4 linked regions of the Homo sapiens genome follow. The protein of the gene in region 2 purifies or fractionates together with the protein of the main gene of each other region. This does not show direct contact. Each region holds a gene or a part of one and is shown on either strand. Other genes may lie near its edges. The genes, in order: ITPR1, TESPA1, ITPRID2 and BOK.

Region 1 (7,031 bases), on a different chromosome or scaffold from region 2:
AAAACTGAGTATTTACAAATGTATTCAGCATAAATGTAACCTTCGTGGGTGAATCAGAACTCATTAGCCATACCCACACTAATAATAATTATAAAAGGTAAATACAATTCCTTTCTTTCATTTGCTTATGCTGGTTGTTGTGGGTTGACATTCATGTGAGGAGGATGTCCTAGAAGACCAATTCTTTGTTTCTGCTTCCTTTGTTCTGTCATCTGGAAAGTTAAAAAGTTTCATCATTAGACCCAGATACTTCCTGTACGTCAAATCGCATACTGAACCATAGATTTACCTCTGTGGTTATGGTTTATACTGAAACCCACTTTCTACAAATAGTGTACCATCGCTATATCAAACACACAGCACTTCAAAAAAGGCATCTTCTTAGGCAGAATGGGAAATTCTGTGACCTAGTCATGCAATGTAACATTCAGAAGTATTGCTTGCCACTTGTTTCATAAAGAAACAAAAAACAATAAAAGCACAGGATTCTTTCTTGTTTCCCAAATGCACTTCCAAATGATTTGAAGACTCATTGGAAAATGGTGGCTTTGTACGATAGTAACAACACGCCATACTAACAAGAAAAGCAGTGTTTAGAATCCTAGGTTTGAGAGGGAGGGTTCGTGTCCACACTTTCAGTGGGTCCTGATTTTTCTCTTCAATGACTCTTGAGTAGTTGGTTAGAGAAAAAAAAAATTACCTACCATAACTAGGAAAATGAGAAATGTTCTCAAATCTCTTTGAGGTCCAGAATGATTAAATGCTGTAAATAATGCTGTGACCATTCACGGTATCTATTTCTTGCCACCCAGTAGACACTGAGGCTCGCTGAAGGTCAGGCGAGACCATTGCCTAAGACTAGTTCAAATGAAAAAGTACTTTCAAAATCCCAAACAAGAAGCCGATTCTATTCATTTGGTTGCTGAACTAAATATATTCTCATGTTGATGGGTCTCTAGACCTGTTCTAGGTATTTTAGGGCATACTTACTTCTGTCTCTGTATTAAGATTTTCCTTAACCCAGTTAGTCTTAGTTTTGGATTTTAGGGTGAGCATTCAAGTCAACTGAGATAAAAAGGCTATACGGAATATATATTCAAGAAAATTGTTGTCTGCAAGTGGGTTAAGGTCCTACTCCTATGTTTTTAGCTTCCTAAAATTGTAGAGGAATTAGGGTAAAAAGAATAAAGGCTTTGGAATCAGATCTAGTTTCTTATGGTTTTGTCATTTAACTTATCAAAGTCTGTTTTCTCATCCATACAATCAGGATGATAATTCCTAGCTGATTGGTGGAGAATTGCGAGGTTATACGCAAATTTATTAGCATAGCATCTGTCACATAGTAGATGTGACACTTAATCTCACTTTTCACATGAACTCATTTTTGGTACAAAATATCTGGAGAGAACATAAAACAAGACTAATTTACCTAGGTTCAATTTCAATGTGGTTATTTTTTCTTCTTCAAAACTAGCATTATCCTCTCAAATCAAAATACTATTTTTAGGCTCCTGTGGAGATGCTTTCTCTGTTATAATTTAGATGAGAAGACTTACAAGGACTTAGTATTTCCAAAAGGTAGCTTTTAATAAAGCTTTTAATTAAGAATTGGATTAGGAAATTCCAGCTAGCCCCTGAAGTTTCCTTAGGTGAGTGACATCTTTAAAGGAAGTGTTACACACTACACTGTATCCACAGATTCGGCTCAGGAAGGAGAACCTAATATGACACATGAAATAAATTCACAATTAGGTTAAAATGCCAGTAATTCATTCATCTTACTACCTGATAGTTCAGATGTTTAGCTCAGATTTTTCTCCCACAACCCTTCCCTTGGCAGGTAACCTTGAGAGGGAATCCAATACAACTTAGCTAAATTTGGATAATCTCAAGTGTTCAAATTGATTTAGAAATCTTGGTGTGCTCAGCCAGGTGCAGCGGGCTCACGCCTGTAATCCCACCACTTGGGGAGGCTGAGGTGGGCAGACTGCTTGAGCCCAGGAGTTCGAGACCAGCCTGGGCAACGTAGCAAAACCCCATCTCTACCAAAGGGGAAAAAAAATTAGCTAGGCATGGTAGCGTGCACCTGTAGTCCCAGCTACTTGAGAAGCTAAGAGTGGGAGGATCACTTGATCCTGGCAGGTGGAGGTTGCAGTGAACAGTGATGATGCCACTGCACTCCAGCCTGGGCAACTGAGATCTTGTCTTGGAAAAAAAAAAAAAAAAATCTTGGTCTGCTCAACCCTTATTGAAGGATACTTTACTCAAAGCTTATATTTAAAGCTGCTGAAATCTTTCAACTCAAAGTTGAATGTCAAAGTTGGCCATTAAGACTTTTTTCCCCTGTAATTTTGCTTTAAATAACTACTTGTATTTGAGATGACCTTTTAGTATGCGTATTTTCATCCCTGTTTGTTACATCAGCTCTCCTTGACTTTTCAATTTGTCAGTTAGTCTTTCTCTTCAACTTGAAGAAACCTCTGAAACTTTACAACAAAGGAGTCTTCAGTTGGTGGCCTGGCTTCCTTTTCACTTCCACAGCCGCGGCCTGATGCCTCCTCAGTTAGCAGCCCTATTCATCTGTCTTCATAAGTGATCCCATCGCCCACCCTCCCTCCGTCCCTATCCTTAAGGCTCCCCACTGATGTGGGTTATTGGCCAATTCTTTGCTCAGGTAGTCATATTCCTGATAATTTTAAGTACCAACTACACATCTAATGTTCTTTTCTGTTTCTCTAGAAGAATGGTTCTCAAACTTCAGCATGCGCCAGAATCACCCAGAACATTTGTTAAAACACAGATCAGAAACAGAGTTTCTGACTCAGTAGGTCTGGGGTAGGTCCCATGAATCTGCTTTTCTAACGATTTCCCAGATGATGTAGACGTTGCCGGTCTGGGGACTACACTTTGAGAACCACTGCTCTAGAAGAGGTTTTTCACTGATAATCTCCAAAATCGGACAAGATCATTTTGAGTATATACTTGAACACTTTTTTTAAAAAAAGTAATTTGTGTACATATATTATTTTTCTCAAATGAGGGAAGCTCTTGGAGAAGATTGTCTGCAACTGAGCATATAGTAGGCACACACATTTGACTGATACTCTTTTGATTAACCATGGCCTTTTAGACAGAATGGCTGTCATTTAAGTCAACATCACTGCCATTTAAGTGACTGCTAAAGGAGAAGGAATTGGGCAACTGCTAAAGTGTTTGGCCTTTTAGTAGCAGTCATCATCCAATTACAAGAGAACCAAAAAAAAAAAAAAAAAAAAACCCCTCAAAACCCTGAAGGACTAAATCTGACCTATAAGAAACTGAGGCCAACAATTCTGGACGCTTAGGTTTCTCCAGCCTCTTAGTGCATATTCTCACATAATTTCTGGTTTTATTAGTTCAATTCTTCTTATCTACTTACCTACCCCACCTACATACATTCACACGTACTATCTATATATCTTGTTATAAGGCATCATTATTGTCTGTTACTCTTACCTACATCAAAACAAATATAATGACCAAAGTCTATCCTTAGCATTTTTGTCAGATAATAGTCTCTCTGGACATCTGAAACAAAATTGACTCTTGAGTAAAAAAAATCTATGGTAACTGTATTCAAAATTCTAATATTGAAACATCTATTTTGAGTAGTGTGAGATGTCTCATTTATAGTACATTTAAAAATCCTCAAAACGGCTGGGCATGGTGGCTCACTCCGTAATACCAGCACTTTGGGAGGCAGATCACTTGAGGCCAGGAGTTCGAGACCGGCCTGGCCAACATGGTAAAACCCCATCTCTACTAAAAATACAAAAATTAGCCAGGCATGGTGGTACATGCCTGTAATCCTAGCTACTTGGGGGCCTGAAGCAGGAGAATCACTTAAACCTGGGAGGTGGAGGCTGCAGTGAGCTGAGATCGTGCCACTGCACTCCAGCCTGGGCAACACAGGGAGACTCCGTCTCAAAAACAAAACAAAGCAAAAAACCCAAACCAAACCTCAAAATTCCCATGTAGCTAAGGATAAACAGTTGTAGTAATGCTGTTCTTCACATCTATACAAATGTAGAAACTAGCTTGAATTTCAGCATTCCTCCTTTTGACTCATCTAAACAAGAAGCAAAGAATAGTGTAGCTTTACAAGTCAGATACAGCCAGACATCTGAAAGACTGTTCATGAAAACACGAGGCATACAGTAGAAATGGGCAAATTTTAATCTACCAGTATTGCCTCTAAATGATTAAAGGCTGGCACTGGAAGGAAAGTTCATTGACAGCACACAAATGCCACATTTCTGGTTTATAACACATCTTAATAGTCTTTGAAAAGCTGCTTTCATGTTACAGGAAGGTCTTGGTTACTCAGATTCTAAACAGCTAGCAAATTCTAGTAATCACAGTTATTTTCTACAGCCCTATAAAATCAGTCATGTTCAGAATGATGAGCCTCAAATACTGAGAAATGAAACCAAACCATCCCTTGAATACAAATATGTTGATTTACTATCAATGTATAGATACAATTCAGATTCTTAGAGTTGATCTCAAATGCTCTGTTTCTCTCTATTTCACCTGGCCAACTCTTACTCAGGCTTTGAAACCAAGCTCCTGAATTACCACCTCTGAGAAGACTTCTGTGGTAATTACTCTAATCCTCTCCCGAAGATCAGATTGAACAAATCACTCCCTTTTCTCCATTCCCAGAGCAATGTGTTCACAGCTCGGTTACACACTCACCAAGTTTAATTATAATTGATCTGTTTACTTGTTTCCCACTCTAGACTTTTAGTTCTTGAAGGCAGAGAAGAGGATCTATTCATCTTTGTAGCCCCAGTACCTAATGCCGCACCTGGCAAACAGGTGTTTCATATGTGTTGGCTGAAAGAAGGAACGGAATTAACCAGACCATACTGCCATTCCTTGAGCATGCCATGCATTTTCATGCCGTTGCTCATGCTGATTCCTTTCCTGGGAAGCCCCCTACTGCATTTCTCTGCCAGCTCAGAAGTCACCTGCTTGTAAGATTATAAAAGCTAAACTCCTTCTGCACTGCAAACTTCACACAGGACCACTACCTACCTACTTCTTTGTGCTCCATGAAACTATTCATGCCTCAAGTCATTCATACTGTATCAGATTGCTAGAGGTCTACTTCTTTGTCTTTCTTGCTAGATCCTGGATCTAGAGGGCAGATGTTGACTTAGTCTTCTTTTGTGGTCCCAGCACAGTATAAGGAACATAGATGCAGTACGGGTCGTTTAATATTCCATTTTCCAACTTTGGGCAGTTATTCTAATCTTGTGTTATGCCTTCTGTCCTTAAGCAGTTAATGTTAGCAAGATAACCCTCTTGTATGAAAAATGCCAAATGCTGTAACATGCTAATGTGATCTGAATTTTCAAGCACTTCTTGTATTCCTAGCAACAGCAAATAATGGTCGCTGTCCTATAGGAAGCCAGTCATATTTTCAAGAAAGTTAGCCCTTCTTAGTATTTGCTCTTTTGCATTATGAAGAAAACATGCAAAAGATTTTTAAGTTCTTACATTAGTTCTCCTCCTTGGAATAAGAATGTAAGAGAATCACATTTAGTGTTCAGAATCTCTTGGGAGGGGAAACTTCAAGATGAGAGGCATCGTTAAATAATACTTAGAATAGCAATCCTAACCAACCATTCTTGGCAATAATAGAAAAAGTGACACCACTAACCATAATTTTACTAATATCCTAACAAGAACTTTTTTCCCTCAGATTGATACATAACGAAACAATCAAAGAGGTAAATAACAGTAAAGATTTAGACCAAAGTCATCCACATTTAAGCTATCGTTGCTCGAGTCTGCTGGTTTTTGAATCAGAAAATCTAAAACAAACAACAACAACAACAAAACAAAAAAAACCTCTAAGTAATGGAGCAATTTTTGTGTTTTCTAGCACTTTTACTAGTGAATGGTATTCTTTCATAGCTGTTTTAAAAAATATCACAAGATTTCTTGGTCATTAATCATTCATGGAGCTTTTATTTTTTAATTCAAAATTTTTTCCCACAAAGGGCAAGAATTCTCACAATTACTATTTAAGAAAGAGCAGCTCTGTAACATATCTGCATTTTTTAATATCTTTTGCACATAAAGGGTTTTTAAACCTTTATGATTGCTATAACCAAACTTAATGAAATTCAAATCTATTCAACAAGTTGATTCTCAAATGCATTAAAGGTTTGTAGGACGTTACATAATCAAAAGAAAACACTGACTACTTCCTTTTAAAAGATGCAAATCCCCCTGCCCCCTCAAAAAAAAAAAAAAAAAAAAAAAAAAAAAGCAGCTATGCTGAATTTTTCCTGTAATTCTGAGTACCTTAAAACTTAAGTAGATCAATCCTGGTAAAAGCACTTGAGAATGTACTACTGGATTCTCATGCTTCTTTTTAACTTATAATATCTTCCAAGAAAAAAAACAGTTCAAATTCATTCACAGGGGAAGGGCTTTCTGAAGAGTGGTTCCAACTGCCAACTTCAAAATAAAAAATGCATAAAAGGCTGGAATCAAGCAGTTTAAACCATACTGGTTTTAATGTCACTTAATGAACCTTAGTCCATATGTAATCAAATTTTACATATTTTGTTTAAACTAAAACTTTGGCTTATCCAGAATAATCTTATCTTGGATTTTAGAAATGCCAAGTCTCTACTATGCTCACTTGTATAAAATGACAATGAATGTATCCTCCATACCATTTAAGTATATGATGCGACTTGACTTCTGAAACTTCAAGCTTTTTTTTAAAAAAAGAGTAAGAACTTAAACAGTCAACCATGAAAGGCAAACAGTACAGTGACATAACAAAGCAAATAAAAACACACACACACACCCCTGACTGGATGATCAGGAGCTCCTGCCCTGGCAATGCCTAAGAACCTTCTGGGCTCCTTTGGTATCCTCATCAAGAAAATAAGGGAATGAGGTGAGATGGCATCTGAAGTCTCGGATACTGTCCTATACCTCTATTCTTTTTTTTTTTTTGAGATGGA
Region 2 (7,041 bases):
AGCCAAACAAAACAAAACAAAAATGGCATTTGCAAACCCCAGGATCTGAGAAAGAAGAAGGTTGAGAGCTGAAATGGAGGCAGATGATTTGCATCTGGGCCTGGGCAGAGGGGCCCAGCTGCTCGGCCCAGAGCAGTGGCTCTGAGCAGCAGCTTCTCTGTCTTGGGACAGCCTCTATGGACAGCTGTCCTGGCTCTGCCCCAGGTCTGGGCAACCTGCCAGCTCAGCCTGTAGTTCTGCAGCTCCAGAACTTATACTCACTACAGCCCATCTGTTTGATGGGCTCATCAGTGTTCAGAAATTGTTCTTATTTATCAGTGTTATCAGGTTACATGTCTAGAGGATAATATTATTCAAAAGCAATATTTACTTGGCTTTTCAATGGAAAAGAGTCTTTCAAAATACTTTTTCTAATACCTTTATAATAATTTCTTACCAAATATCACTTAATATTTTCATTTTCCATAATAAACTACATGCAGTTATAAAAGGGTAGAGAAAAATAGTCTGTACAGGTGTTACTGACATCTAAAGCCAAGAGGATCTTAGAAAATATTTCTCTGTCAGAAGGTGATACCGATATCCAGTGAAATTAAGTAACTAGTATAGTTTTAAACTCAGATTGCTCTTTTACCCCTAGTTCAGGGTTTTTACTAAATTCTATAAAACACAAGAGAGGGAGCCATGGAATGACAAATAGGCCCTATCATGAGGCACCAAACTGCTGAATCACATAGGCAGTAGAGAGCTAATTCATTATCTCAGTTAGCATAAGGGTTTTTATTTTTAACCAAGGGAAAAAAAATGAACAAGCTCACAAAAAAACCTTCAGAAACCCTGAACTACTGCGTCTCGTATAAAAAGAACAAGTCATTTTGTTTTCATGAAGCACCTGGAATATATGCTCAGAGAAGTTCATGGTGCCAAAGATATAGAGACAATGTTTTCAAAGGGTGGGAAGGGCAGGTGAGAGGGAAAAAAGAGAAAGGGGAAGGAGGAAAGGAGGGAAGGAAGGAAAGAAGGAAGGAAGGAAGGAAGGAAGGAAAAGGAATGGAAGGAAGGAAGGGAAAGAAGGAAAGAAACAAAGAAAGAAAGAGAAAGACTATACAACTGAGAAAGAAGATAAACAGAGGAATACCCTGGGCCGCCTCCTCCTCCTAGGAATCATATAGTCTTCATCTTTGTCTTTCAGAAGCTGCTTGTAGAAGAGAAAAATATTTCTTTCAAAAAATAAATCACAAATACTATAAACATATAAACCTACATATGTACTCATAAAAATTAAGAATAAATATAAATAAAAACCAAAAATTAATACATCTTTTTTATTAACAAAAAAATCTCTAGCAATTGCTTGTGAAATGGTATCTTTAATGAGTGAGGTAATTTTGACAGATAGACATAGTATTCTGCAGAAACTGAAAATATTATATTTCATGCAAATCAAAACCACAATGAGATACCATCTCACACTACTCAGAATGGCTATTATTAAAAAGTCAAAAAATAAAAGATGTTGGCGAGGTGGCAGAGGAAAAGGAATGTTTATACACTGTTGGCGGGAGTGTAAATTAGTTCAACCCTTGTGGAAGACAATGTGGCGATTGCTCAAAGACCTAAAAACAGAAATATCTTTAGACTCAGCAATCCCATTACCGAGTATATACCTGGAGGAATATAAATCATTCTGTTATAAAGACACGAGCACATGTATGTTTGCTGCAACACTATTCACAATAGCAAAGACATGGAATCAACCCAAATGCCCAGTGATGATAGACTGGATAAAGAAAATGTGGCACATATACACCATGGAATACTATGCAGCCATAAAAAAGAATGAGATCATGTCCTTTGCAGCAACATGGATGGAGCTGGAGGCCATTATCCTTAGCAAACTAACACAGGAACAGAAAACCAAATACCGCATGTTCTCACCTATAAGTGGGAGCTAAATGATGAGAACACATGGACACATAGAGGGAAACAACACACACTGGGGCCTATGGGAGGGTAGAGGGTGGAAGGAGGGAGAGGATCAAAACAAATACCTATTGGGTACTAGGCTTAATACCTGGGTGATGAAATAATCTGTACAACAAACCCCTATGACAGGAGTTTACCTATGTAACAAACTTGCACATGTACCACTGAACTTAAAATAAAAGTTAAAAGAAACTATTATATTTCAAGAGTCTTAAAAATAGCTGCAATTTCTTGAGCATTTGCTGTAAGGTAGGCGCTGGACTGAATACTCTGTATTCCTTTATTCTTATAGCTCTACAACCACTCCTGTAAGGTTATCCCCATTTAGCAGCTAACAAACTGAGACCTAGAGATGTTAACGTATCCAAGACTACAGAGCTACTTGATGCCAGAGCTTCACTCTAAAGCCTGCTCTCCTAACCATCAAACTATCAATGTTAACAAAATGTTGACATTTGGGCCAGGACAATTATTCCTTATACTGAAGAGTCCCATCCCTTCAAAAGCACTTATCATCATTGGCCCTCAGGTACTAAATACCAGTATCAGCTTCCCATTTCTTTGAAAATTAAATCTCTCTCACATATTTCCAAACTCCCTACCGAAGTTATATTCTCCATTTCCCAAACATATTGGAAAACAACTGTTAAGGAAAACATTGAATTCTAGAAACTTAGGATTTAAAAGAGTTGTTAAGTTTCCATTAGTTCAGCTTTTATAGTTAATTTGTACGGAAAAGAATAGTAAATAAAGAGAATTAGGGCGTGTTGGATTTAGCATTTTACTTGTTGACTGTGAAGCTAATTCTCAGAGAAGCACATATTTAGCATCTACTATGTCCTGAGAAAATATGTTAGATATTTTCATGCCTACGTAAAAGGAATAGCGTGGGAGAAGGGTTGAGTGAGAAACAGAGAGAATTGTTATTTTCCTCACATTATACTTGAAGAAAATAATGTTTTGAGAACTTAATTTGCCAAGCAAGAATTTTATTTAGGATTATTTCTACCATATTATAGCTATACTATGGATACTCAATGGAGTTGTCCCATTGATGATTGGAAATGGAATTTAGAAACATGGTAAAAAAAAAATCTAACTATACCTATAGCCAAAAAATCAGAAAGAAGGTAATGAACATGTGAAAATCAGTCACAATTAACACATTAGAGGAGTGCCTTGTAGAATAAATATTGTGATATACATTCATAAATAAATGATTTAAAGAAGGAAACAGTAGAATCAGGAGAGAGACAGAAAGAAGATATCCAAAATGCAGCAGCATCCTACGGAGAAGAGTGTTCAGAGATACTGGAGAAGCGAGGAGGGATAGTTAGCAGTGCTGGATGCTCCCGGTGGGTGAAAGTGATTGAGGCCTGGGAGAAACCTTTTAGAGTTCAACAAGCCTTTTCCAAACTGAAAACCAATAAACTGAAGACATCTTCAGGGTGTAACCGATTTTAAAAGTTCAGCTTTGAAAACGTTGGGGAAAGCAGTCATTTACTACAAAAACAAAAACTTTGAAGTGGTTTGAACATAAAACAAAGTTAAGAAACTAACAGAAAAAAAAAGTAGTCAGTATTCAAAAACAAGCTTCGGGGGAATTTACCAGAGTATGAAAGTTATCAACACAGAGCGACTGGCTCAGAGCCCTCTCAAGTGTGTGATACGACTGGAAACTTCTTCTCTGAGATAAACGCCAGATCATTTATGAGAGAGAGCTTTCCCATTTTCAGACAGCTCTCCTGAGGACAGAAGGATTTATCTGCAGCAGTGGAATTCTAGTTATATGGTAGGAAGACTCCTGCACACACCTCTTTAAATGGACTGTACCTTTGCCTTAATAGGAAAAGATCTCCTGTTTTTCTGGAAAGACAGAGGCAGCTCTGGGGCAGGAAGGTCTTCCTAGTTGTGAGCACCGTGTCTACGGATGGTTTGTCCTTCGCTCAGTCTCCTGAGCCGGAGCAAAGGATGTGGCTGGGCCAGGAGGCGGGGACTGCATCTACATGTGTGGATGTGTGTGTGTGTGGTGTGTTCTCATTTCCGCTTCCCCTTTTGAGCAGGCAACAGCAGTTGAATGAGTTCAGGGAGAAAGGCATAATCTACAACATGATACTTTCTCACTTGCTTCACCTCTGTGCCCACACCTGTGAAGGCCTCGGCCCAGCTTCGACAACTGCTTTGCCTCAAACTCAGCTTTCTACCAGCAGACAGGTAAGCACAGCCTTTATCTCAGTTTCAAGGCTGTACTGATTTAGGGTGATGCTAGGAGAAAGAAGGAAACATGTCAGAGAAAAATCAGGCTGTCAAGTCAAGGGAAAATCAAGAGAAAATCTCCCACCACTCTTACTTCAACCTTAAAAGCATCCATCATTATGCCTAGGAGAACGATGCTGGGTGCCCTTTTGCTTTCGTTTGTTTGTTTTCTCTTTATTATCAGAGAGGTAATCTTTCTAGATTCTCAAAACTTGGGTCTCTTTGATGACTTGAATAACATTTTAGGAATTTTTTTTCACCTTTCTCACCTGCAAAGTTCTTCTCTGTGTCTTGCTGAACTCATTGTTGCTGCAATTTCCATCTGATTATAACATCGAAAAGTTCTCAAGGAAGAAGTTTCCCGGTTTCATTTCAGGCCCTACTCTAGTGTCCATAGCTCCAACCATTGAGAGTACCTGGCTGAAATCAACTTTGCTTTCTGTGGGTATGACCTCTTTCTTCAGAAGCTGTAGAAGAAACTTGTTGAGATAAACTGCAGCAAGATATATTGAGGTCAGCTACGAGGGAGGATGTACACACTTGAGTGAGGTAAGGTCAAATTCACCGGGAGGCTCAAGATAGATGGATAGCCACCATCAGGACCAGATTTCAGGGTTCACATCTCAAAGATAGATAGATGGATGTGTTGCCTTCTCAGTGACCTACATAATATTGGGGGCTTCATGCTCCTCCAACACCCCTTGCCCCAGTGGTAGCAGGCAGAGCATATCACCACCTACATGAGTTTTGGGGTAGATGGAGGAGTGGAAAGATCCTCCACCCTGGGGTTTTCCCATGCCCCTTCTGTGCCACTAAGCTCACCAGTGGGTGGAAGAAAAAGGGTGGGTCCCCAGGGCAGGGCAAGGACAAGAAAGGAGAGTTCCACAGAAGTGATTTGACAAGACTGTGAGCATTTACAGGAGATATCCAGGGAAGTACTAGTGACTCTGTATACCACAAATGGTCCTGAGTAGAGAGGTAAGGAGACTTTCTAGATGGTGCAGGGCAGTACCTAGGATGGGAGGTTGGAGGTAGGAACCTTCAACTTGTGTGTCCAAGTATCAGACTCAATAGTTGTTCAGCTGAGTGATTAGAGATAAAGATCTCACAATATTGTCTTGCAGCATGAAGTGTTAGTAGGAAGAAGGGAAGTCAGGTTTATTGTCTGTCTCTACTTGGACTATTATCAGAAATAACAAGCTGAAGATATAGCAGAAGGGATAGAAAGCAATTTAACATCTGAGTTATTCGCATGCACCCCAGGGTGTTTAGAAACCATTTACAACCACGCTACCAACATGTTCTCATAACTCTTGGGTTTTTTGAAAATTAAGATGGAACCCTGCGATTCAGCATTATGTAGTGAACATGAAGCCCCAACCGTCATTTTCAGTTCAATGTTTGATTTGGATTCTAGTATGGAGGTCTCGTCTCAGCCAATGCTGTGACTTACAAGATTCCTTCTGGGCTACAGTAAGGGGAAAAGATCACACGTTTATTTCCACCTGCAAACTGACAACTGTTCTCTTTTCCACCTAAGGCACAAGACCAAAGTGGATATTCCAGTACCCACAGTACTGTGTGCCTTACAACACCCAGGCCTGATGCAGAATGGCCTAAACACAGATTTCAGATTGAGAAAAGAGTTCAGTCAAATAAGTAGAGGGACGAGGAGAAGAGAGTGTGTAGATATTGAAAAAGAAAAGCAGGAAAGAAGAAAAATGAATATATGCAGGACAGAGCTTATTACCAAGGAAATGAAACTGAAGAATTAAAGATACGAATTCACAGAGCTAACACAATGGTTGAGAAATCTGCTCATTCTCCCTACTTTCTCTTGATGAAGCCATCTATAAATCAGCTCAGATAAACTGCTGTTTCTTATTCTTGATGTCTTTATTGCCCATTCAAATGAAGATATTTGATGTCTCCCTACATTGAGAACAAGCGATTAATTTTTTTTCCAAATCCACAACTTTAATATTTCCTGTAGCAATTATACAAGCCTTTCTTAAAATTCATATCCTAAAAGTGGAAGTAAGGAAGAAAGGGAAGGAGAGGAAAAAGGTCTTAGATGGTCTTCTTTCAGTATTTATTCAGCTACGCTTATTTGTGGGAGAAAGAGTATGAAAAGGGAGGGGAATAGGAGTTCTATTGACTAATGGGCATTTTTTCTTTCTGTTATTTACCAAGTAACATCTCTCCTTTTCCCCGAACAGATTGAACTGCTCCTTAGACAATAGAAGTCTCAGAATGCTCAAATATTATACTCAGGGAAATTCTTGTTCTGATGATCTTCCAACCTGAGTGACATGGAAGAGGGTTAGGAGCTAGAAGACAGTTCTATGAAGGAATGTGAGAATTTGTTGCAGATTGGGGTATGTCAAATGGGGGACAATCCACCTGGGTTGAGGTGGAGTTTGTCCAGTTCATGAACAGAGAAATGTTAGCTACTCTGGGATTTCCCGCAGCTCTGCGATGGTAATGATGTATATCTTGGCTGTGGATGCAGAAGGTCTTATGGGCCACATCATGGAAACCCCATTTCCTTCTTCTCTCCTCCCACACTGGTTCTCACTCTCAGTCTCAACTCACAGGCACTGCTTGGGGCATAGGTACAAAACAGACAGAAGAGAAGAGAGGTCTGTCTCATACATGTCCCCTAGAGCACTAAAGGCAAACCTGGGACTGGGCCTTGGAAACCAAGTGTGGCAGGAGGAAGGCTGTATGATATAAAGGAAGAAAGCATGCATCTGGAACTCAGAACTTGTGAGTTTGGTTCCCATTTAAAACCACTAA
Region 3 (7,031 bases), on a different chromosome or scaffold from region 2:
TTTAATATATGTGTATGTATATATATAAATATAAACATATCATTAATATTGTTTCTTTTGGTAGGCCGTTTTCGTCAAATTGAAGTGCTTACTACTGTGGCCAATGCGTTTTCTTCTTTATATTCTCAAGTCTCCGGGACGCCCCTGCAGAGAATTGGAAGTATGTCCTCAGTGACCTCTAACAAGGAGACAGACCCACCTCCACCTTTAACTCGAAGTAACACTGCAAATCGTTTAATGAAAACACTCTCAAAACTGAATTTATGTGTTGATAAAACAGAGAAAGGAGAAAGTAGTAGTCCTTCTCCATCAGCTGAAAAAGGAAAGATTCTAAATGTTTCAGTGATTGAAGAAAGTGGCAATAAAAACGATCAAAAGTCTCAAAAAATTATGAAGAAGAAAGAGTCATCTTCTATGTTGGCTACAGTTAAAGAAGAAGTCTCTGGTAGTTCAGCAGCTGTTACGGAGAATGCTGATAGTGATAGAATTTCTGATGAAGCAAATAGTAATTTTAACCAAGGAACTGAAAATGAACAAAGTAAAGAAACTCAAAGTCATGAGAGTAAACTGGGTGAGGAATCTGGTATTGTAGAATCCAAATTAGATAGTGATTTCAACATATCCAGCCACAGTGAGCTGGAAAATAGCAGTGAGCTGAAAAGTGTCCATATATCCACACCTGAAAAAGAGCCTTGTGCACCACTGACAATACCATCCATAAGAAATATAATGACACAGCAGAAGGACTCCTTCGAAATGGAAGAGGTAGGTAAAAAATTACTGAGACTGGTTTCAAGTTGCAGACTAGGAAAAAAAGTACCAAAAATGCTTATAAAATGAGAGGTAGCTAATAGATTTATACTAGAAAAATTTATTCTAATTTTGACTTTCCAGGTTTATGTTTCACAAACCAAGAATTGGTCTCAGGATAATGTGATGTCGAGGTAATGGGACAGTTCAGTAACTCCTCCAGATCTTTATCCACTAGTTGATATTTGAACCTTAACCCTCTTTTCTCTCTCAAGGGTAAGATTTTGATGCTCAAGAAAGCCCTGAGAGAGTATATTTAAATTCAAAGCAATATTGCATAATAGTTAGAAACACAGGCTTTGAAATCAAACAGGGCTTTGAGTTTTGTCTGCCACTGAATGACTGTATGCCTTTGGGCAAGCTTTTCTTAACATATCTCAGTGGTAAGGATATGTGAAGGCGGCTTTGGGGATAGTTCTTGTTATATGACTGGAAAGAACATGAAGATATTACGTACCTGCATGGGGAGGATAGGGACCCTAGAATTAGCAGGTTTGAAAGGCCACTGAATAGGGTTTCTGCAAGCCCAAAAGACCAATGTTTGGTTACTTGTTATTTGTGTCCAGTAATATACCTGATAGTTAACATAAATTTTTAATTGGAAAAGATAAAAGATACTTATTTTGAATGAGGTTCAGCTAAAACTGCTTCTGAATAGTAGGAGCTGAATAGCTTGGGGCAGGAAAACTGATTTTACCAAGCATCTACCCTGTGCTGGGCACTGTTCTTGGCTCTTGAAGTACTTCATTGCAGTCTGTGAGGCACATGGTAGTGGTCTCATTTTATACATGAGGAAACTGAGGCATATGTATGCTAATGAAGAGTTGTGGCTATAAATTATATAATGCGCAATTTGTCTTTTGTAATTTATTACATTAGATGCGTTTTAGTAATAGTTCACAGTAGTTTTAACATCACACACCATTATTTTAGGGAATTAGAAAATGAAATAATTGATTCAGCTCATAAATGTCCTCTTAGGTGAGTGTCTCTCTCTCTTGCTCCCTCCCTCCCTCCCTCAGATTAGTGAAGATTTTTCATTTATTGTAAAATTTCAGTTGCTGATACAGATTTTTGCCTTTTTGTGGTCTGTTAATACTTTAATTACAACTGAATAGTGAAATAAAAAGGGAGTAGGAGCAGCACCTTGGAATATTTTACATTTTGAGCTTTTTTTCTTTTATTTCTTTGTATATGTTTATATTTCTTCTATCTTTTTACCTCCTGGTATAATTTATTTCTCATCGTAATGAGTATGGAAGATGACTGTGATGACTACATTAAAACCTCTGTTTGTTCTTTTTCACTCTGATAACTTTTTGACTTTGTTTTGGTCTAAACTTGTTCCAGCACTCATAATTAAAGTGTAAATTTTTGCCTACCATTAGGGCCCTCTTCTATGACAATTAGATATGGCAGTTAATTTCCTTGTTTAATACAATAGCAGAGCATAAAGATCTAAACAAATTATGTTAGGTAATTGCAAATCTGATATTGGCGACTCCGAGTGAACAACACTCATATTTTCAAGTAAGTCACTCTTCAAAGAAGTCAAGGAAGTTTATTTTTAATTTCTAAAATTCCTGAATTCTAAGCTGTAGTTTTTAAAATTTTTTAAGATGCCATACACAAAAGGTTTTTTAAACACTTATAAAGTGCTAGATGTACTTTTGTGGCAAGTTAACCTTTAATGATAGTCTGGGGGTTTTTTGCCCCCTCTACTGGCAAAAAAGGTTAATGAAGAAAGCAATGTAGCATTGACGTGAACATTTTTTTGAAGTACAAGATTACATGCATTGGTGGAAGAATAATGGGAGATTTTTTTTTTAAATGAATTTATGGTCGACCACAGCTACATTGTAAATATGGGGAATTTTAAAGAAAATAATGTATCTTCAGATATATTTAAAATATGGATAAAAACCTCCTGGAAGTGTGTTTTCATCCCTAAGGGAACATTAAAGAGAGCTTGTAGAACAATGGATAAAGGAAATAATGTGTTAACTTTAATTTCCTCTTCTCCCAAACACTTGAATCATATTGACAAATGAAGAGAACAATCTTATTGAAACTGACTTTTAGATCCTATTCAGTGTAGTTTGTTGCTATTTTTCTTTTGGACCTCTTTCCATGAGGTTTGATTCTTGCTGGGAATTTTCTTCTTGTGAAAACCATGAGTAAATATAAGTTAGAGCTCCCTCTGTCTCAGTAAATCAGTTCTCAGAAACATTATCTGAGCATGAGCTGCTTTAGGAAGCTAGGAAGGAGAAAATGTTGCAGATATGTTGACTGCATGAAGCTGCCTAATCCATCTGAGACAAGAGGTAAGATCCAACAGTCACCAGAAGCAAAGAGACAAAATACTTAAATGTAAAGAGAGCTAAATAGATGATGAGACTGCTCCTGGCCTGGTACAATGAAGTGTCTGTTTCTTATGTTAGAAAAGGAAAAGGCCAGAGACTTTCAGTTAAAAGTCAACTTGCCTTATAAAGTGTCTTGTAGACTGTTTAAAATAGTTATGAATGTTTATAACGATGTTTTTTCTTTTTTTTTTTTTTTTGAGACGGAGTCGCGCATTGTCACCCGGGAGTGCAGTGGTGCAATCTTGGCTAACTGCAACGTCTGCCTCCTGGGTTCATGTAATTCTCCTGCCTCAGCTTCCTGAGTAGCTGGGATTACAGGCACATACCACCACAGCCAGCTAATTTTTTGTATTTTTAGTAGAGATGGGGTTTCACTACGTTGGCCAGGCTGGTCTCAAACTCCTGACCTCGTGATCTGACCACCTCGGCCTCCCAAAATGCTGGGATTACAGGTGTGAGCCACCACACCCAGCCTATAACTATTTATAAAAAGTTATTAAATCCTGTTCTTGAATTTCTAATTATTCCAAATGACTTGCTTCATTAATTCTTGTGTTCTTCTTGAATGGCTTATTTTGAATACGTCATGGTAACTCTCTGAAGCCATAGATTAGTAGTGTGAATGATTCACAAGTTAAACCAAAATGATCCTTCTCAAGCAGATGTTCATCTTTTAGATGTAAAGGAAAAACTTAAGAAGGAGAACTTTTATCTCAGCATTTCTGTAAGAAGTTGACTGTGTGGTCTTCTTGACCTTTAAATGAATTTTTATTTAAATATAACCATTATTGGATATACACATAATCTTTTTTAAGCTACTGATGTGTTAGTAACTGTTTCTAATCCTGTCTTCATACTAATTATTGATTTAACTAATGTACTTGACTTCTCATTTTTAGCTGTTAAGTTTTAGGATTTTTCTATGTTTATTGGTCTGAGTTAAAATAATCCCACATCAGTCAGATATTTGACAGATAATTAAGTTGTTCCTTTGGCCTTTTAAATGTAACTGTGTATGTTTTGAAGATAAGCCTGCCCTGGAATATGAACTCTAACATATGACATGCACAGATATCTGCTACTCTAAAGCCCAATTAACCACTGTTTTGTTATTTGATATTTACCTAAAAGACCTTAGTCAATTTTTATTGAAAATTTACCTGACAGTAAAAATAAATGATATTTTTGTGTGTATGTGTAAAACTCGATAGTATTTGTTTAAGATAAACATTTGCAAGTAATTTATAGAATCATAAACTAGTACGGAAAGAGATACTTTATTCATTTTCTAGTTTCTTCCCTTTACAAATGAGGAAGCATCCCCTCCCTCATTTGATATTGTTTTATAGCAGTGGTTCTTCACCATCTTTCTGAGGGCTATAATATTCCTTTTGATATCAGTGCTTCACAGGGGGAAGGAGCACAGCGGGTGTCAGTGGAGGATGGCAGAGGAGGATCTCCTGTTGTACATTCTTACTACTTTACTGTTTGAAAGTACTTTGACTTACAGTTACATTTGATCACCCCAAGGACCTATGAGGTAGAAATTTTAATTTTAATTTTGCTGTTAATTTTAATTTTGAGGCTGAGCATGGTGATTCACACCTGTAATCCCAGCACTGTGTGGAGGCTGAGGCAGGAGGATCACTTGAGCCCAGAAGTTAGAGACCAGCCTGGACAACATAGCATGACTTGTCTCTACAAATAGTTTTAAAATTAGCCGTGCATGGTGGTGCATGTCTGTAGTCCCACTTCTCCAAAGGCTGAGGTGGGAGAATCACTTGAGCCCAGGCAGTTGAGGCTGCAGTGAGCCATGATTCCACCACTGCACTCCAGCCTGGGCAACAGAACGAGACCTTGTTTCAAAAAAATGAAATAAAAAAAAAAAATACGGATATTTATCGCAGATAATTGTCAGAGGCCGTTAGCCAGTAAGTGGCATGAATAAGACTTGAATTCACGTTACTTGTGACTATACTATACAACTTGGTGAAGGTCAGATATGTTGGTATGGTCAGGCATTGTACAAGAACTAATCATCTGATGCACAGCACCATGCTACTACTTTGGAAAAAGAATGATTTCCTCTGACATTTTTTTGAGCTGTCATTAAAAATTAGACAGAATTGTAATTTCTAAAGCTCTAGTTTTGATTTTCTTTGAAAACCATTTTGATATACAATGTTTATTCAATGATGACAGCTATACAGTCTCTTTTTAAACTTTAGAGGAAGGGTTATTTGAGTTAGAACATCCATGTATTGCTGTCCTGTGCAATACAATACAGTAGTATTGTGCCTAGAAGATCCCTCTTAGTCAAGGTAAACATGACAGCTGTTAAGAAACCAAAGTGGTTCACTGAAACAAAAAGTACATTTTTTAAACAAGAGAAAGAAACCAAAGTGAGTGCCTGTCATTTTAGCAGAACATTGATTTAGAAAGATACAGTCATTGTTTCATGAAAACTTTTTTAAATGAAGTAACCCAAATGTGTGGGTTATTCTAAAGCTGTTTTTCATCTTTGAATCCCAAAACATTGAGACCATGCAATTTTATCACTTTGGTTTAGTGGTTTTTTTTTTTTTTTATATTATGAAACAGTTTTGTTATGAAAAGTTTCAAACTTACTTGAAGATTAGAGAAAATAATATCATGAACACCCATTACTCATCATTCTAATTCAGTTTTATTTGGCTATTCTTGTTAATTATGAAAGGCTGCTTATAGCAAATGACCAGAATTCTACGGAGCATTTGAAACCACTGAATAGGGAAAATCTTGTCACATAAATCTAAATTCTGTGTTCTATATTTGCTTCATAATTCTCTGTGGTGTACCCCATCTCAAATTTGACTGCCGCCTTTTGCACAATTGTGACCAATAATAAAATAAGAAATTCACCCATTATCACTAGCATGTATGTTTCTCTCTTCAGCAAGTGGGTACTCTGATTTTGCTGAGTAAACAAGAAGAATCCCAACTTTAGTTTTATTAGTAAAATGTGACTGTCTCAGCTTTTTGAAGTGCTCCTTTCTTGCACTTAATTATGGAGTTTGTAGTAAAAGGAGAGAGTAGATTTGTTTTTGCCATTGAGTAGCATCTTGAAGAATAGAATGCTGATGATATGTGTTTATTAAAGTCATGTTATTTTGTGATTAATTTCATAAGTCTAAGGAAATAGAATATGTGATAATTCTGTGTTTAAAGGTGAGCAGCCGGGTGCGGCGGCTCACACCTTTAATCCCAGCACTTGGAAGGCTGTGGCAGGTGGATCGCTTGAGCCCAGGAGTTTGAGACCCCAGCCTGGGCAACATGGTGAAACCCCATCTCTACCAAAAATACAAAAATTACCCAGTCTCATAACCCAGTCTCAAAATAAATAAATAGATTAAATTTAAAAAAAACATGACAGTGAGAGATTTGGTATATTAATGCTGTGCCTGAGCCAGTATTCCTAGAACATAAATGCAGAGGCATTGGAATTCTGCTATAATTTTTTGATCTGGTTGATATTTACTTTACAGAAAGATACTTGAAGTAGACCGAGCCTGAATAGAAGCTAATAATAGACATTTTATTGAATATAAAAAGAAAACGCACATTGTTCCCTTGCATACAAGACAATGGTTTTCCTGTTGAACATGTATCTGCTGCTTTGAAGAATTATTCTAATTTTAACAAGATAACAAAGAATAGTAGAATCTATTTTTATATATCTGATCTACAGGTGATGGTTTTGCATGAGTAGTGTGCTTTCAGTTTTCAAAAGATTCATAAACTTCGGTTCCTGGAGCTATGTAGAGCAAAGAAATCACAAATTAGAGCAAATTTTAAATTGGGTAATACTATCTTTAACCT
Region 4 (5,918 bases), on a different chromosome or scaffold from region 2:
AACCTCTCAGATTCAACCAATCCTCCCACCTCAGCCTCCAGAGTAGCTGGAACCACAGGTGCAGGCCACCGTGCTTGACTAATTTTATTTTTTAGAGATGGGATCTTGTTATGTTGCCTAGGCTGGTCTTGAACTCCTGGCCTCAAGCCATCCTCCTGCCTCCCAAAGTGCTGGGATGACAGGTGTGAGCTACTGGTCCTGGCCCATTATACTCTAGTTTGATGAAAGTGTTCAAAAGCCACCGAGAACCCTGCCTTCTGCAAGTATTTAATTAGGAGCACCCAGTGGTGATACTATGCATACCTCTATTGCCACATCACACTATGGACTATCGGTGTTCTTTTTACTACTGGAAATCAGCATTAGTGCCTTTACATCTAATCAGGATAAAGACCCAATTCCAGGAACCCTCCCATCCCCACCCTCTCGCCACTCCCCACCCTCAATTATTTTCAAGCAAACCCTCCGCACCTCTTACCATGTTGTGTATAGGTAGAAGCTATTTAACACACACACAGTGACATTCTGTCTAAAATGACAACGATCGTTTGGAGAAGTTTATTACCACCCCTACCCTCCAGTGGGATCTCAATGTCACGATGAGTCCGGGGCTGGCTTTCCGCCGGGACCCTCCTGTCCTGGCACATGGCCCACCCCAGCACGAAGCCTGGCCGGGAGGGCTCAGGTGGGTGGCTGCTAGGCCAGGCCTCCCCAGAACGACTGCCCCATGTCCAGCCTGTATCTCCTGAGTGCCATGCTGCACTGGGGAGGGACAGGGCTGGCTCGGGGCTCCAGGAAAGATGCCTCACATGTGCCTAGAAATGTAGGCGTCAAGGGAAGGCTGTGTGTGGGGGCACCTGAGGGGCTGGGCTTCCCAGGCATCTGAGTTCTTACGGAGCCCTAATAGGCACATCCCCAAATGGTTGTATGAGGATGAGCACAAAAATAGCAGATGGGGTCACCCTCACCCTCCACTGACAATGGACTGGGATCCGACTCATGCAACATTCCTTCTCGGCCGTAGGTTCCACATCCATGGGTTAGGTGTGCTGGCCTGGAGCCCGCCGGCCCCGGTCCCCACCGCACAAGGACCCCATCACAAGTGGGTGTCATACTCTTCCTCCAGAAACGGATTAAGCAACCAGCATGTGAACCTTACGCTCTGTTTACAGGCTGAGTCCCCACAGCTCTTCCAGCTTCAGCCAGGCCAGGGTCACCTTCAGATTGAATGTGCAGGGCCCCTGAGGACTCATGTCCTGAGATGGCCCTTCTTCCTGGGATGGGACCCCCGGGTTCAGGTGAGAGGTGTTCCCGGGCCCCTTCACCTGGGGCTCAGGTGACAGGAGGTGTTCCGGGCCCCTTCACCTGGGGCTCAGGTGAGAGGAGGTGTTCCGGGCCCCTTCACCTGGGGCTCAGGTGAGAGCAAGTGTTCCGGGCCCCTTCACCGGGGGCTCAGGTGAGAGCAGGTGTTCCGGGCCCCTTCACCTGGGGCTCAGGTGAGAGCAAGTGTTCCGGGCCCCTTCACCAGGGGCTCAGGTGAGAGCAGGTGTTCCCGGGCCCCTTCACCTGGGGCTCAGGTGAGAGCAGGTGTTCCGGGCCCCTTCACCTGGGGCTCAGGTGAGAGCAGGTGTTCTGGGCCCCTTCACCTGGGGTTCAGGTGAGAGCAGGTGTTCCCGGGCCCCTTCACCTGGGGCTCAGGTGAGAGCAGGTGTTCCCGGGCCCCTTCACCTGGGGCTCAGGTGAGAGCAGGTGTTCCGGGCCCCTTCACCTGGGGCTCAGGTGAGAGCAGGTGTTCCGGGCCCCTTCACCTGGGGTTCAGGTGAGAGCAGGTGTTCCCGGGCCCCTTCACCTGGGGCTCAGGTGAGAGCAGGTGTTCCCGGGCCCCTTCACCTGGGGCTCAGGTGAGAGCAGGTGTTCTGGGCCCCTGCATCTGAGGCCTGGGAGTTGACCCTGACTTCCTGGCCCCAGAAAGAAAAGGGAAAACACAGAGATCACAGGAGAAGGGACACAAGCGGGGAGGGTCGCAGGCTGCCCCAAAGCCCAGCTCCAGGCTCAGGAAAGCCCCTCCCCACTCACCCCTTCCGGAGGGCCTGGGTCTGCGGAGGAACGGGGCTTAGGGGGTCTCCGAGGGTTAGAGTGCTCCAGGCTCGGGTGGGGAGGAGGAAGATGTGTTCGGGTGCTGAGGGCCTCCTGCGTTGGGCCCAGAGGGCCAGGCTGCGGCCACTGCCAGGTGGGCAGCTCATCTCTCTGGCAGCAGCACGAAGAAGGCAGCCTTCAGGAAGCGGCCGAAGCTGCAGAGTGCAGCCACCAGCCAGTGGGAGCGGAGGCCAGGGTCTGTGCTGACCACACACTTGAGGACATCAGTCTGGGAGGGAAGAGGGAGACCGTTAGAAAGCAGAGCCAGCACCGCCAGGCCCCCAGCACCGCCAGGCCCCCCAGCACCGTGCACCAGAATATCAGCAAAATTGCATGAAGGGAATGCAGGAGACTGTTCGGGAAGGAGGTCTGTGGCCTGGACTGAAGGCTCCAACACAAGACCAGACCCGATGCCGTGCACATTCAGACAGTGTGAAGGGCCAGGAGGCACGGGAGGTGGGGACAGATGGCAGCCAGGCAGGCCGGCCGGAGGGCCCCTGCCGAGCAGGAGAGAGGCCTTCATGGCCCTCGCTGGGGCTCCAGACATCCAGACCAGGGTGCCAGCTCCCCTCGGCCACCTGCCTGCTGCCCCCCAGGGGCTACAGGTATGCCGCCGTCATCCTCCTGTGGGGCCTTGGAGCCTGGGCTACCAGGAAGGGGCAAACCCAGCTTCATTCAGACTCTGCCTGGAACAACAGCAGGGACTGCGTTTCCGGAAGCCCACGGACTCCCTGGACTCTGAAGTTCCTTCTGGGGAAGTGAATGAACGTCCAATTCTCTTATTCCCTTCACTTCCTGCTAATACATGAAGGCTTTTCCCTGCAGCCTGGACCTGTGGCCTTGGCGTTGCTCAAAGTGTCGTCGCCCACTGGGCACACAGTGCCCAGCCCCATGCCAGACTCCACAGGAGGAAGACAGGAGGGGACGGAAGTCTTGGGGTTTCTGTGCTGAGGGACACCTGTAGCCATGTGCGACATCTTGGGACATTGCCCTCTGCACCCCCAATTCAGCCTTCAGAGGAGACCACAGCCCCCGCAGACCACGTGACCTCAATCTCTCGAGATGCTAAAGCTAAGGCCCCAGCAGAGGGGTCTGAGCGCTGTCACCCCTGGCCGCTGATTTACACACCAGGCCAACACCCGCTGTACAGGAAAGAAGGCTAGACTCTCGGCAGGGGAGCCACCCTCCACACCCAGGGCCCAGCGGCAACTGCGGTCTGGCCGGAGCAGGGCAGGAAGTTGGGGGCGTGGAGACAGAGGAAGGGTTTGGCTCTGACACCCACCCCTCGGGGCCTTGCTTTTCCCACTCGGGAGGGCGGGGGCTGGGGCAGCGGGTCCTTAGCACAGGGGTAGGATCGGGGGTAAGTCAGTGCTGGATCTGGGCAGAGGAGAGTCCAGGGCCTGCCTGTAGGTCTCGGCCCTTGCCCCACCCCCTGCCTCACCCATCTCCCCCAGGAGTGCTCAGGTGACCACCCATCCGCCACTCCCTCCCGTACCTCTGCACCCTCGCACCCCAGCTCTCCCACCCCCACAGGCGCTCAGACACTCACCCATCCGCCACTCCCTCCTGTACCTCTGCACCCTCGCACCCCAGCTCTCCCACCCCCACAGGCGCTCAGACACTCACCCATCCGCCACTCCCTCCCGTACGTCTGTACCCTCGCACCCCAGCTCTCCCACCCCCCAGGCGCTCAGAGGCTCACCCATCCACCACTCCCTCCTGTACCTCTGCACCCTCGCACCCCAGCTCTCCCACCCCCACAGGCGCTCAGACACTCACCCATCCGCCACTCCCTCCCGTACGTCTGTACCCTCGCACCCCAGCTCTCCCACCCCCCAGGCGCTCAGAGGCTCACCCATCCACCACTCCCTCCTGTACCTCTGCACCCTCGCACCCCAGCTCTCCCACCCCCACAGGCGCTCAGACACTCACCCATCCGCCACTCCCTCCCGTACGTCTGTACCCTCGCACCCCAGCTCTCCCACCCCCCAGGCGCTCAGAGGCTCACCCATCCGCCACTCCCTCCCGTACCTCTGCACCCTCGCACCCCAGCTCTCCCACCCCCCAGGCGCTCAGACACTCACCCATCCGCCACTCCCTCCCGTACGTCTGTACCCTCGCACCCCAGCTCTCCCACCCCCCAGGCGCTCAGAGGCTCACCCATCCACCACTCCCTCCTGTACCTCTGCACCCTCGCACCCCAGCTCTCCCACCCACACGGGCACTCAGGCGCTCACCCATCCGCCGCGTCTCCGCAGCCAGGTTGCCAGGGTCTTGCGCACGAACTCCCCCAGGCAGTCCACGAGGGCGTGGACCATGGCAGGCTGGGCCTGCCTCACACAGTCCACGGCCAGCCCCGCGGCCACCGCATACAGGGACACCACCTTGCCCCACGTGATGCCTGCAGGGAGAGAGATGGTCAAGATCAGGACTTGAATCCCGCCCACGGGAGCACTTAAGGAAGGGGCTGGGCCTCTCTGAGCCGCTGTCCTGCTTGCCGTCCAGCTAATGACCAGGGACCGTCCCAAGGGGGGACCGCTCCCTGACAGGATGCCTGTCAGGTAGTTCTTGGGCAGGCAGGTTTCTCGGCCTCCACTGCACACCTGCCCAGCCCACGTCTGTGCAGGAGGCCGCAGGGACAACGTGGGGTGAGGCGAGGGAACTGAGGGCAGCAGCAGATGGAGTGAGCAGCCAGTGACCTCACGGGTGGCACCCCTGGGCTGCCTGTTCCCACAACAGGCCTGGCGTCCACATTTTACACATAAAGAAGCTGAGGCCCGCAGAGAAACTGCCTTCCCCAGACCCCTAACCTGCTGAGGCTGAACTGAGATGGGAGCAGCCTTGAAAGAGAGGACGAAAGATGGTGACAGCGGGGGAAAGAATAAAAGGCAGGACACGACGCCTCAACACGGAAAGACGTCTTATACGTGAGCGAGAAAAGAGAGGCTTTCAAAAAAGAACTATGAGCACAGAACTGGAACAGCTGATTCACAAAAGAAAATTATAATAAGAGACACGAAAAATGTTTACCTTCATTAATAACCAAAGAAAGGCAAATTAAAACAAAATGTAATCTGTTGCATTAAAAGCTTTTACGCCAGGCGCGGTGGCTCACGCCTGGAATCCCAGCACTTTGGGAGGCCGAGGCGGGCAGATCACAAGGTTGGGAGTTCAAGAGCAGCCTGACCAACATGGTGAAACCGTCTCTACTAAAAATACACAAAAAATTAGCCAGGCGTGGTGGCACGCGCCTATAATCCCAGCTACTCGGGAGGCTGAAGCAGGAGAATCACTTGAACCCGGGGAGGCGGAGGTTGCAGTGAGCTGAGATCGCGCCAGTACACTCCAGCCTGGGCGACAGAGCGAGACCCCGTCTCTAAATAAATAAATAAATACATGCTTTTAAATGGCAGTGTGAGGATTCAGGCCACTGCACAGCCTTGTAAACCTTGGTGGGAAGCCCAGCTTGAGGGCACTGGCAGTATCTGAATGGCCACAAAACATGCAGCCCAGCAGTGATCCCCGCAGGGAGTTAGCAGCGGTCCCCGGAGGGAGTCAGCAGTGGTCCCTGGAGGGAGTTAGCCTGAGGACACTGTACATGCAAAGATGAAGCACTGCTCTCCAATCCACCCTCATACAGCGGCCAACCTGGATTTGTTATGAAAACATAAATCAGCTCAAACAAACACTCAGTCACAGACATTCACAGCAGCCAATTCACAATTGCCAAAAGGTGGAAAGAACCCAAGTATCCTTCAACAGATAAATGGATACAAATGTGG

The links.
Region 1: the proteins of TESPA1 (region 2) and ITPR1 purify together in Homo sapiens (affinity purification with mass spectrometry; 3 studies listed by BioGRID and IntAct, with this or other methods). This does not show direct contact.
Region 3: the proteins of TESPA1 (region 2) and ITPRID2 purify together in Homo sapiens (affinity purification with mass spectrometry; 3 studies listed by BioGRID and IntAct, with this or other methods). This does not show direct contact.
Region 4: the proteins of TESPA1 (region 2) and BOK purify together in Homo sapiens (affinity purification with mass spectrometry; 3 studies listed by BioGRID and IntAct, with this or other methods). This does not show direct contact.

The regions. Positions count from the first base shown.
Region 1 is NC_000003.12:4,839,320-4,846,350, reverse strand, and holds part of ITPR1 (inositol 1,4,5-trisphosphate-gated calcium channel ITPR1), read right to left. Parts: intron 213-7,031; coding exon 126-212; 3' UTR 1-125. UniProt on the Homo sapiens protein: Inositol 1,4,5-trisphosphate-gated calcium channel that, upon inositol 1,4,5-trisphosphate binding, mediates calcium release from the endoplasmic reticulum (ER).
Region 2 is NC_000012.12:54,981,744-54,988,784, reverse strand, and holds the start of TESPA1 (protein TESPA1), read left to right. Parts: upstream 1-4,022; 5' UTR 4,023-4,200; intron 4,201-4,618; exon of another isoform or gene 4,619-7,011; intron 7,012-7,041. UniProt on the Homo sapiens protein: Required for the development and maturation of T-cells, its function being essential for the late stages of thymocyte development.
Region 3 is NC_000002.12:181,901,702-181,908,732, forward strand, and holds part of ITPRID2 (protein ITPRID2), read left to right. Parts: intron 1-64; coding exon 65-765; intron 766-7,031.
Region 4 is NC_000002.12:241,568,744-241,574,661, reverse strand, and holds the end of BOK (bcl-2-related ovarian killer protein), read right to left. Parts: intron 4,538-5,918; coding exon 4,374-4,537; intron 2,366-4,373; coding exon 2,240-2,365; 3' UTR 531-2,239; downstream 1-530.